Regions from separate parts of the Homo sapiens genome. Here all the other regions are linked to region 3. The links come from fine-mapping of genetic effects on gene expression. A gene starts in region 3. Each other region holds a variant in brackets. All regions are shown on one strand. Distances are between the middles of the regions.

The links. PIP is the estimated chance that this variant, and not a neighbour inherited with it, causes the effect. A credible set is the group of variants that fine-mapping cannot tell apart.
Region 1: its variant is the best candidate, but not a certain one, in a credible set for the expression of SPTLC1 in whole blood (INTERVAL, PIP 0.54).
Region 2: its variant is the best candidate, but not a certain one, in a credible set for the expression of SPTLC1 in whole blood (INTERVAL, PIP 0.67).

The regions. Positions count from the first base shown.
Region 1 is chr9:92,052,937-92,057,180 of GRCh38, forward strand. SPTLC1 (serine palmitoyltransferase long chain base subunit 1) reads right to left here. Exons shown (of 15, transcript NM_006415.4): 8 at 2,469-2,558. Among named protein-coding and RNA genes, the nearest start is that of SPTLC1, 60 kb to the right of the region's middle. RefSeq lists an enhancer at 2,773-3,393. The variant AG/A (reference allele first, on the strand shown) is at 1,980.
Region 2 is chr9:91,939,815-91,944,058 of GRCh38, forward strand. All of the region lies in intron 1 of ROR2 (receptor tyrosine kinase like orphan receptor 2), which reads right to left. Among named protein-coding and RNA genes, the nearest start is that of ROR2, 8.3 kb to the right of the region's middle. RefSeq lists an enhancer at 165-679. The variant A/AG (reference allele first, on the strand shown) is at 2,118.
Region 3 is chr9:92,113,734-92,117,977 of GRCh38, forward strand. SPTLC1 (serine palmitoyltransferase long chain base subunit 1) reads right to left here and starts at 1,680. Exons shown (of 15, transcript NM_006415.4): 1 at 1,581-1,680. The coding sequence starts at 1,637. RefSeq lists an enhancer at 2,183-2,242.

The DNA.
Region 1 (4,244 bases), 61 kb before region 3:
ATCAAATAAATGAAACAAACCCCCACAAAATAGGAGAAAATATTTGCAAATCATGTATCTGATAAACATCTAGTATCCAGAATATACAAGGAATTCTTTTAAAAACAAAAAAACAACCCAATTTAAAAAATGGGCAAAGCACCTGAATAGATATGTCTCCAAAGGTATACGCATGGCCAAACAAACAAACAAACAAAAAAAAAAACAAGAAAAGAGGCTCAGCATCATTAGCCATTTGGGGGAAACAGGATCAAAACCACAGTGAGATACTACCTCATGCTCACTAGGGTGGCTAAAACAAACCAACAAAAAACCCTGGAAAATATAAGTGCTGACAAAGATGTAGAGAAACTGTAACCCTGGTATATAGCTGATAGGAATGTAAAATGGTGCAATCGCTGTTGAAAACAGTATGTCAGTTCCTTATTAAGTTAAACACAGAATTACCATATAATCCAGCAATTACCCTGCTAGATATATACATAAAAGAACTGAAAACAGGAATTCAAACAAATACCTGTACACAAATGTTCACAACAGCACTATTTGCAATAGCAAAAAGGTAGAAAGAACCCAAATATCCATCTGTGGATGAACATATAAAACAAAACGTGGTATTATCCATGCAATGGACTATAACTCAGCATTAAAAAGGTATGAAATACTGATACATGGTATACAATGTTAATGAACTTTAAAAACATCAAGTGAATGAAGCCAGAAAGAAAAGGTCATATATTATATGATGCCATTTATAGGAAATAACCAGAAAAGGTAAATCCATAGAGACAGAAAGCAGATTGGTAGTTGCTGGGAGCTAGAGGGAGAAGAAAATGGGGAGTGACTGTTTAATGGGTTTGAGGTCTTCTTCGTGAGTCATGAAAAGGTTTTTGACCTAAAGTTGATGGTTGCACACATGGTAAATGTAATAAATGTCACTGTCCTGTACAATTTAAATTGGTTAATTTTGTGTTATGTGAATTTCACCTCAATAAAGGAAATCTCAATGGTCATGGTTTCTAAAAACAGTTATGCTGCTTTCACTATTAAAAAGCTAAGTTTTGGCCATGCGTGGTGGCTCACGCCTGTAATCTCAGCACTTTGGGAGGCCAAGGAGGGTGGATCACCTGAGGTTGGGAGTTCAAGACCAGCCTGACCAACATGAAGAAACCTTGTCTCTACTAAAAATACAAAATTAGCCGGGCATGGTGGCACATGCTTGTAATCCCAGCTACCTGGGAGGCTGAGGCAGGAGAATCACTTGAACCCAGGAGCCAGAGGTTGCGGTGAGCCGAGATCGTGCCATTGCACTCCAGCCTGGGCAACATAAGTGAAACTCCATCTCAAACAAAAAACAAAACACAAAAAAACAAAAAAGCAAGCTATGCTTTCATTCATATGCAATTCTACAAAAGGTAAAACTAATCTACAGGAATAGAAAGTAGATTAATGGCTGTCTGGGGCCAACATGGGTACTCACTACCAAGAGGCATCAGGAAGCTTTCTGGATAAAGTTTTCTTTCTGGATAAACATTGTCTTACATAAAAATATTCCGTATCTTGACTGTGGTGGTGGATGGCTGCAGTGATACAGATGTATATACATCTGTCAAAACTTATCAAACTTTACCCTTAAAGTAGGTGTATTTTATACGTTGATTTCACCTAAATAAAGCTGGATCTTAAAAGCTACGTATGGCCGACTCAGTGGCTCATGCCTGTAATCCCAGCATTTTGGGAGGCCCAGGCGGGCAGATCATGAGGTCAAGAGATTGAGACCATCCTAGCCGACATGGTGAAACCCCGTCTCTACTAAAAATACAAAAATTAGCTGGGGGTGTCTGCGCACGCCTATAGTTCCAGCTACTCGGGAGGCTGAGGCAGGAGAACTGCTTGAACCTCGGGGAGGAGGTTGCAGTGAGCCAAGATGGCGCCACTGCACTCCAGCCTGACGACAGGGCAAGACTGTCTTGCGGGGG[AG/A]AAAAAAAAAGCTAAAGCTAAGTTTTGGCCAGGTGTGGTGGCTCATACCTGTAATACCAGCACTTTGGCAGGCTGAGGCAGGAGGATCGCTTGAGCCCAAGAGTTTGAGAACAGCCTGGGTAACGCAGTGAGACCCCTACTCCACAAAAAAGGGAAAAATCAGCCAGGTGTGGTGGCATGTGCCTGTAGTCCCAGCTAACTCAGAAAGCTAAGGTGGAAGGATCACTTGAGCCCAGGAGGGTAAGGCTGCAGTGAGCTGTGTTCACACCACTGCACTCCAGCCTGGGCAACAGAGCAGTCTTGATTACTCTTTGAAGGCCAGCACTGGCATTCAGTGTTGTTCTTCTTCCCTGATCTGAGCAAAATATGCTTATGAGGCCTAATGCGCAAAGCAACGCAGACGTTATACACTAAAAGCGGTCATAAACAAAAGGCACATCTGTCAAATAGTCCAAATATTAAAATTACAGCTGAACATGGTTGCTTACCAATTCTGGAAGAGGACAAATAGTTCCAGTATTCATATACAATCCTTCTACTACAATGAAACGCCGAGTTACACGAGCCTTGCGAGGATTCTTTAAAAGAGAAAAAGCAGACATCTTACATTTCAGTAACTCTGAAGACAAGATCTGTTACATATTCCCCAGCACTTTCACCTTACAAGATTTATTCCTAAAAAAATATTCTGAATGAATTGAAAGCTCAGTGTTTGTGATGGGTTATTTTGAGATGAACAACAGTACTATCTTCTCTCAGACGTTTTTCAGCTCACAGCATTAGCTAGGTGACCCGCCACACACACAAACTAATTAGGCCCTCTGAGAATATTAAAACACAAACAAAACCCTCCAAACCTCCAACTGGGAAGGGGCCTAAGGGACTTTCTAAAGAAATGGGAATGTTTTACATCATAATGGGGCTGACATTCCTGGGTTACATGGGTATAATCACTGGTCAAAATTGTATGGCTGCATTCATGTGATTCAATGTCTGTCAATTTTACCCAAAACAACTATAATGAAGGTCATCATCATGAAGATGGGGTGAGGAACAGATGGCACAAGAATGATGTAATGCTGATAACAAAGCTGGGAGAAGGGTACAGGGGGCTTCACTATACCACTGTGTTTCCTTCTTATATGTTGGCATTTTTCCATAACAAAAAGTTAAAAAACTCAAACCGTTTTCCTTCACCTCCCAAAAAAAGGGGCAACCCTGTTCCCTCCTCACTCCCCACTGATGTATTATCGGATCAAGTAAAATTTGACTATGAGCTTGTCCAATGATGTTCCCAGGTGGTGGGGTAGAGAGGTCTCCTTTTCTTTTTTTTGAGATGGAGTCTCACTGTCACCCAGGTGGGAGTGCAGTGGCGCCATCTCTGCTCGCTGCAACCTCCGCCTCCAGGGTTCAAGCAATTCTCTGCCTCAGCCTCCCGAGTAGCTGGGATTACAGGCACCCGCCACCACGCTCAGCTGATTTTTGTATTTTTAGTAGAGATGGGGTTTCACCATGTTGGCCAGGCTGGTCTTGAACTCCTGACCTCTTGATTACTGACCTCGGCCTCTCAAACTGCTGGGATTACAGCTTTGAGCCACCACGCCCGGCAGAGATCTTTTCAAAAAACACACACCTTCACACACTCTGCTCAGAGCAAGTCACTAATAAATCTCCCACATGTATGAAACTGTACATGGTTCAGGTGTGTGGGACTGCAAAAAATACTGAGATCCACAGATAGAGTTTGCCATTACCTTCTTACTCAGAGATCTCTTGCCTCTAAGTTTCTGCTCCAATGGACAATTAGAAATGATCAGAATTAGAAAGTATCAGAGCAATGCTTTAAGGGGTATTTTACAACCCACAGCAGTAGCACTAAAAAAAAAGTTTGTTGAGGAATAAAAAGTACATATCACTGATGTTGCTCAATCATCTTTACTCTGTCAACTCACAACTGAAAGCTGGGGAGCTAGCAATATGTTAGAAGTGATGGATGAAGAGATGCCACCCTAATTTCTACACAGGGCATGCTACCTCTGCCTGTCTTTAAGGAAAAACATTTTCTTAGATTTAAAAATATTCAATGTAGGATTCTTGGGAAATGGAAAAGTACAAAAAACAATTAAATAAATCAGCTAATCATACCACACGGTGATAATTTTTGTCTTTCTTGTATAAACATATAAATTACTTTGTTCAGAATCAGGATTTTACTGTAGTTTTAGGACCTGATTTTAAAAACATTATGCTGTGAGCATTTCTAA
Region 2 (4,244 bases), 170 kb before region 3:
AGACTGGTCCATGCCACAGGCTGTGCTGAAGGAGGTGGTAACAAGAGCACCCACCAAAAGAGGGCTCCAGAATAAACGGGACTGGGAAGGGCTGGATTAAACAAGGCTCAGCAGATGCCTCGTGGCCTGAATCTCCGGGCCCCACCCCACATTCACCTGCACAAAGATGTCCAAGAGAGACTCAGTGCCACTCCAAGCCCAGGTTCCTGGGCTCTGCACCCAGAGGGCCACAGCCTATGTGATGCAGGGAAGCAACACCTTCCAGAATTCGGAGCTTCCAAGCCCACGGGAACCCCAGAGCACAGCTGCATTCATGGCAACTCAGCCCCGCTGTGCGCAAATCAAGTGTGAAAGGCCATTTCCAGCAGGGCTGGGTATCAGACAACACCAGGGCTCCTTGTTGATAACAGTATTGAGATGGTGTGAAAAAAACAGTTCTTACCATTCATGCTGAAGTATTTTCAGGTAAACAATTAAGGCTGTCTGGGGACTGTTAAGTAGGCCGGGGGAAATGAAACGAAATGAACGTGGCAACTGTTGAAGCTGAGTGAAAAATATACAGCGGTTCACTGCAGTCGTCTAATTTTATGTGTGTTGGAATTTCTATAATAAAAATCTTAAGAAAGAAAAATCAGAAAACTTGGGGCAATCCAGAAACTAGACAAAGACAGAGATTTTCAGTCCCTTCAATGAAATGCTGTCTGGCCTCAAAAGCACCTGGATCGCATCCATCCTCAGTCCCTGTGACACCATTTCCAATAAAATCATAACGTGCAATTCTTTTTTTTTTTTTTTCTTGAGACAGAGTCTTGCTCTGTCACCCAGGCTAGAGTGCAGTGGCTCGATCTCCGCTCACTGTGACCTCTGCCTCCTGGGTCCAAGTGATCCTCCTGTCTCTGTCTCGGCCTCCCGAGTAGTTGGGATTACAGGCACCCAGCCCCCACCCCCGGCTAATTTTTGTATTTTTAGTAGAGATGGGGTTTCACCATTTTGGACAGGCTGGTCTTGAACCCCTGACCTCAGGTGATTCACCTTCCTCAGCCTCCCAAAGTGCTGGGATTACAGGCGTGAGCCACCACCTCGCCGGGCCTTGAGTCTTTCTTTTAACAGCATGTGCTAAACTCCATTGTTCATTGCACTGGCTTCAGCCATCCATTGTTAGAATTTAACATTTTTAATTCTTTTTTTTTTTTTTTTTTTTGAGATGGAGTCTCGCTCTTTCACCCAGGCCAGACTGCCATGGCGCTATCTCGGCTCACTGCAAGCTCCGCCTCCTGGGTTCACACCATTCTCCTGCCTCAGCCTCCCAAGTAGCTGGGACTACAGGCGCCCACCACCGTGCCCAGCTAATTTTTTGTATTTTTAGTAGAGACGGGGTTTCACCGTGTTAGCCAAGATGGTCTCGATCTGCTGACCTCGTGATCCCCCCGCCTCAGCCTCCAGAAGTGCTGGGATTACAGGCGTGAGCCACCGTGCCCGGCCTTAATTCTTTACTTTGAAACCATTTCGCCTTTACAGAGAAGTTACAAGAATGGTGCATGAAACTTCCCTCTACTCTTTGCCCAGGTTCACTAATGTGTCACTCTTGCCCCATGGGCTTTATCATGGTCTGAGATGACAATAGTAGGCTGGAGACATCAAGCCCCTTTATCCTTTAACATGGCAGCGTGTATGTCCTATGAGTACAGACATCCTCTTACACCACCTCTGCACAATTAACAAACTCAGGAAAGACAAGTCTGACAACACGTTTAAATAACTTACGCTCACCTTCCAATTTCCTCAGTGGTTCCGTTAGTATCCACGACAGCATGTTTTTCCCTCCAGCACAGGGTCAGGGCCAGCACATGCACTGGACTGCCTTGTCCCTGTGGTGTATTGTATTGTACTGTCTTCTCTACCTACCCTGTGGTGTACTGTATTGTACTGTCTCCCCACCCCGCCCAGCCCCGCCCTGCCCTCCTTTCTCTTCTCTTCTCTTCTCTTTCATTTTTGAGACAGGGTGTTGCTCTGCTGCCCAGACTGGAGTGTAGTGGCACGATCTCGGCTCACTGCAGCCTCCACCTCCCGGGTTCAAGTGATTCTCCTGCTTCAGCCTCCCTAGTAGCTGGAATTAC[A/AG]GGCACATGTCACCACGCCCGGCTAACTTTTGTATTTTTAGTGAGGACGAGGTTTCACCATGTTGGCCAGGCTGGTCTTGAATTCCTGACCTTGTGATCCGCTGGCCTCAGCCTCCCAAAGTGCTAGGATTACAGGCGTGAGCCACCACACCAGGCCCCTGTGGTCTTCTTCAAGCTGGACCTGGCCTGCCCTGTTTCATCGCTCATGTCCTCGACAATTTTTGCTACAGACCATTGTTTCATAGAATGTCCCTCCATTTCGTTTGCTGATTTTTGCTCATAATCAGACTCTCTTCCCCAGATAGAAAGCAACCTAAATGATGTATGCTCTTGGGAAGGACGGCATCCATCTGCCCAAATCTGTGGCATTAACCTGGACCACCCAGGTATTGGGATGCAAATCTCGCCAGTCTACAGTTAGCAACTGTCCCTTGCCAACAAGGAATCTGTGGGGAAATCCTTTGAGACCACAGACATTTCCTGCTCCTCATCAAACATGTCTTCTTTAATGAGTTTAGCACTCATTCATGACGCCTGCCCAAATCAATCCGTACAGTTATTGCTGTAAAATGTGATTATTCCCAACTCGCCTCCCATTTATCAGTTGGCACTTTGCTCTAGGAAGTGCCCTCTCTTCCCCACCCCTCCCACTTAGGTTTTGTAGTAAATTAGTGTTTCCCTATCCACCCAGAAGCTCAGAAAGTGACCTTATTTGGAAATAGTCTTTCCAGTAGTAATAAGGAACATGAGATTAAATCATCCTGTATTTACAGTGGTCCCTAAATCCAATCACTGGTGTCCTTACAATAAAAGGTCATGTGAAAATGGCGATAGAAGTCAAAGTGATATAGCTCCAAACCAAGGGCACCATGAGCCACCAGGAACTAAAAGAGGCAAAAAAGTTTTCTCCCCTAGAGCCCTGGGAGGGATCGTGGCCCTGCCGCCACCTTGATTTTGGACTTCTAGCCTCTAAAACTGTGGGAGAATACATTTCTGGTTTTTAGGTCACCCCGTTTATGGCATTTTGCTACAGCAGGCCTAAGAAACTCATACATATAGTTATGTACTTATTATCAATGGTGAGTCCTGGATGCCTATTTTGTTCCTTGTATAATCCATGCTTGTCTTTATTTATTCTGATGCCTAAATGGTCCCAGACTTGGCTGCAACTCCTTCAAGTTGGCCCCTGAGTACATCTGCCATGCCCCCACCACTTTTCACCACTCACTTGCGTTCTAACACAAGAACACGTTTCAGGCTTATTGTGTATTTTTCCCTGTCCCCATCCCATATTCAGTCATTTCTCCAAGGTTCTCTAGCTCCTTTAAGATGCAACAGTATTGAGAAACCAACATCTGGGCACTAAGAAAGCTCACTGCTAATGAGGTGCTAAGAAATAACTGTTATGTGTAGAGTATGTTTTACAAATTACGGTGCATAATTTAACATAATATATACCAAATATATATATAAATGAAAGCATGAGTTACACTGATACCTCCAATTCCAATTCAACCCCTCCAGATTCTTCCTTGCCTTCCCCTATTCCATCCTTATATCTCCCTCCTTCCTCAGTGAGCACCCTGGCTACAACACTATTAACACACTTCTTATCTGTCTAATCTCACAATTCACACAAAGTCATTTCAGAATGGATATACCCACACCACTATGAAAATCAAACCTACTAAGAAGGGTGCCAGTTTTGCTTTCAGGTTGTTGTTTCTCCTGTAGGCTGAGGATACACCGTCAAAGCACTGAGTCCAACATTACGGTTTCTTTTCCCCCATCTGTGTAGTCATGTTACTCATTTGCAACACATTTGCATTTATGTGCTTCTTTGTATTCAATTCTAGTTTCCTGCTATTCTTAGTGATTTATTTTTTGAACTTGTAGAATGTTAGCATGTTCTAAAAGTCAAAAATATACCAAAAAATGAGAATAAACTAATAGAAAGGAAACCACCTCAACATAGTAAAAGCCATATACGACAAGCCCAGCAAACATCACACTCAATGTTAAAAGACTGAAAGCTTTTCCTCCAAGATCAGGAACAAGACAAGAATGCCCATTTTCACCTCTTCTATTCAACACAGTACAGTCATGCGTTGCTCAACGATGACGATA
Region 3 (4,244 bases):
AAGATAAAATTCCCAGTATGTCCTGCAATGGAAGACACTGTCATTACCCCTACCAGTAGACGGTGATATTAAGTTTGGTGATATTAAATCATCAAAAGTAAAGTGAAATTCACTTGAAATGAATGTAAGCTCTTTAAGCACAGGGACTTCTGCCTATTTGTTCACCGCACTATCCCTAGCATCTAGATCTGTGTGGTCCAATGTGGACAGTCACTAAGTTACACGTGGCTATTTAAGTTAAATTAAAAATTCAGTTGCAGCTGGGTGTGGTAGCTCATGCCTGTAATCCCAGCACTTTGGGAGGCCAAAGCAGGAGGATTACTTGAGGCCAGGAGTTCGAGGCCAGGCTGGGCAACACAGCAAGCCCCCGTCTCTATTAAAAAAAAAAAAAGATTAGTTGGGCATGGTGGTATGTGGTCCCAGCTACTCGGGAGTCTGAGGTGGGAGGATCGCTTGAGTCTGGGAGGTCAACGCAGCAGTGAGCTGATCGCACCACTGCACTCTAGCCTGGGCGACAGAGTGAAACCCTGTCTTTAAAAAATAAAATAAAATAAAATAAGTTCTTCAGTGCCCAATGAATAGCTCTGCAAGACAGCACGGGGACTCTCAGTTATTAAATGAATGAACACTAAGATTGACATTCTGGTTTCTTATTATCTTATGTATCTGAAATAACTAGGCTTCAAAAAACTCTTAACTATTCTTCCTTTAAAAGTCTACGGCCAGGTGCAGTGGCTCAAGCCTATAATCCCAGCACTTTGGGAGGCCAAGGCGGGCGGATCACCTGAGGTCGGGAGTTCGAGACCAGCCTGACCAACATGCAGAAACCCCGTCTCTAATAAAAATACAAAATTGGCCGGGCATGGTGGCACATGCCTGTAATCTCAGCTACCTGGGAAGCTGAGGCAGGAGAATCGCTTAAACCCGGGAGGCGGAGGTTGTAGTGAGCCGAGATCACGCCCTTGCACTCCAGCTTGAGCAACAAGTGCGAAACACCGTCTCAAAAAAAAAAAACAAAAATAAATAAATAAAAATCGACTAAACTAGTTGTATCTTTATAAGACAGAAAACTGATGTACGCAGAAGAATGACAAACTATTTTTTATTCACAAATCCTAAGTCACTTGATTTCTTTTCGACAAAAACAAACTCCAATTTATTACAATTTTATTCCCCAACGAACTGTACCGTAGTTCCAAAGAGCTGACTTCCTTAGGACCTTCCCAGACGAAGGTGTTCCACTCATTTTCACCACTCCGTTTTATCGTCCGTCTAAACTCTGGTTTTTGCAGACCTGTCTCCTGCGTCCCCTTACACGTGTTCCTTTCCGGAGCTTCCAGGGGACCCGGAGCATAAGAATTCAAACCGAGACCCTCAGTCCCAGCCCCCGCCCCCGCCCGTTCCTCCCTACACTCAACCGCTGGGACTAGAAGCTCCCGGCAGTCCTTCCAGCAAGAGGCACCGAGTCTGGGCGTGACCGAGCCAGTCCCGCCGAGGTCTCAGGCCACAAATCCACACGCGTCCTCCCACCCTCCCCGGGCCCGGGTGTGGTCGCGGACCGCTAATGGCGCGGAGCCCACCTCGTAAAGCGCCTGTACCATCTCCACCAGAACCCACTGCTCCGTGGCGGTCGCCATAGTTAGCCGCTTCCTTCCGGAAGGCGGGTCACAAGCGCGTCCCAAAAGTGCGCGTCGCTGCTCAGTGTCGTTATCACCTCCGCAGAGGGCGGGGCGGCGGAGCGCTGGGCACCGCCTACTCGCACTTGCGCACTGGTTGACAGGAGGCTGGACGGGGTCAGGTGGGATGCCGCAGTTTTTCCAAGAATTGTTTACCTTGTGTCCTATTACCCTCCCTGCTGGATTCAGGATGGAGAAAGTAGTAATGAACGGGCCTTACACTTGGTCATCAGCTGGGCGCAGAGAGTTAAAATGATTGCAATACGTTTACTTTATTTTTTTTTTTTTGAGACGGAGTTTCGCTTTTGTTGCCCAGGCTGTAGTGCAATGGCGTGATCTCGGTTCACCGCAACCTCCGCCTCCCGGGTTCAAGCGATTCTCCTGCCCCAGCCTCCCGAGTAGCCGGGATTACAGGCGTGGGCTACCACGCCTGGCTAATTTTGTATTTTTAGTAGAGACGGGGTTTCTCCATGTTGGTCAGGCTGGTCTCAAACTCCTGACCTCAGGTGATCCGCCTGCCTCGGCCTCCCAAAGTGCTGGGATTAGAGGCGTGAGCCACCGCGCCTGGCCAATACGTTTACGTTTAGTAGCATAAGTAATCCAGCAATGCATTATCATTAAGAAATGCATAATTATACACAAAAATAGCCAACCCATATAGCACTTCCTGTTTTGTCAGACATAGGCCAAGGCTTTGCAGGTATTAAATCATATAGCAGTTTGGTAAAGAACCTTTTAGAGCCTTCCAATGCATATGCAAACAGTATGCACGCGCACATACTTAATTGGATTGGATTTCTTAAATATAATTGAGATCATAGGGACAAGACTTTTCTACAACTTTTTTTAAATTTTTTTTCTAGCATTTTTTTCCTAATATATCTCATATTTAATGGCTGAAGACTTCCATGGAATAATTTATGTATATTCATCGTTCCATTTTATGTAAACGTTTCCCTATTGGTGAATACTTATGTTGTTCCCACCTTTCCCCTATTACAAATAATGCTGCCATAACTGTCGATGTTCCTTGTGTGTATATCTTTCTGTGCATGTTGGAGTTTTTCTGACCAGTTTTTTCAACATGGGATATATCTGAAGACTATGCACGTTATTAATTTTGATAAGTACTGCCAAAATGGCTCAACCAATTAAAATAATTTGGAAGTTTTTCTATGCTCTAGTCCATGATGGATATTATCAATCTTTTAAAAAAATTTGCCAGTTTAATGGAGATAAAATGATACCTCACTATCCTTTATTATTGATGCTTCTGGTTACTCATGAGGTTGTGCAGCTTCTTATATGTTTATTGGCATTTATAGACTGTATGAATCGCCAATTCATATTCTTAATCCATTTTTCTATTGGTTATTTTTGCCTTCTTATGGATTTGTAGGAACTCTATACATTCTGAATATCTTATATTTTTCTGTTTCATATGTGAAAAATATTTTTGCTCAGTTGCCGCCTAGTTGTTTCTGCTCTTTCATCATACTTTAATTTTAAATTTTATGTAGTGCTTCAGTCTGTTTTTTGCCTCTGGATCTGCATATTGCTTAGAAAGGCCTTCTTCACCACATCTATGGTTTCCAACCATTCTTGCAGCAGTTTGTTGTTATTTGCAATTAGCTCTTTACTCTGGAAACTATATTTTTGGATAATGAGAGTTAAGGGACTTAATTATGTTTTTTTCTAAAGGAATAACAATTTTTTGAGTGCCATTTATTTGAGTAACCCTGACTTTCCCCAGAATTCTGAAATGGTACCAGTGCTATTGATACAGGAGCCAAAAAGAAATTATTTAGGCAGATAGTGAAGGTAAGAGAGTCCTCAGCAGAGCTTCTTTCTGAACAAAAAGCAACCCCAAAATTATTTCTTTTTTGCAAAGAGCAGCCTGAAAAATTGAGCTACAAACATAGATAAGCAAGCTGGCAGTGCACGGGAGAATGCTGGCAGTTGTGCCGATAGAAAAAGACTACCTGGAAGCCAGGTATGTTCAATATGGAGACTCCATCTTCCATTTTCTTTGTCACCACGTGTACAGTGAAGGAACAGGCAACATGGCATCAGTCAGGTAGAGAAGCCATCTGCAGAATAAAATATTAGGGTGGGAAGGCCAGCTTCTTCATGCACTATGCAAATGGCACACCTGGTCCAACCAGTCTTTCATTCCCTACGTAAATCAAACGCCACTTCCTCAAGCTCATCTATAAAACCCTGTGCGTTTCACCGCAGAACTGGCAACCCATTTTCTCTGGGACCCCTTTCTCTGCACAGATAGCTCTTCTCTTTCGTTTGCCTATTAAACTTCTGCTCTTAACCTCACTGTGGTGTGTCGCGTCCTAGTTTTCCATGGCTGTGGGACAATGAACCTCAGGTATTACCCCAGATAATGATGCCGCTACACTATGTGCTACATTTCCACATAAGCTGGCGATATGGAGTCCGTGTCAGTGCTCTGCTCACAGTCCTGTGCTTGCGTGCATTTCCTCCCCCGGGTGCTTTCCTTCCAGCAGCCACGCCTGCATTTCTCAGAGGACCCCCTTGAAGGCTGCCATTCCCACG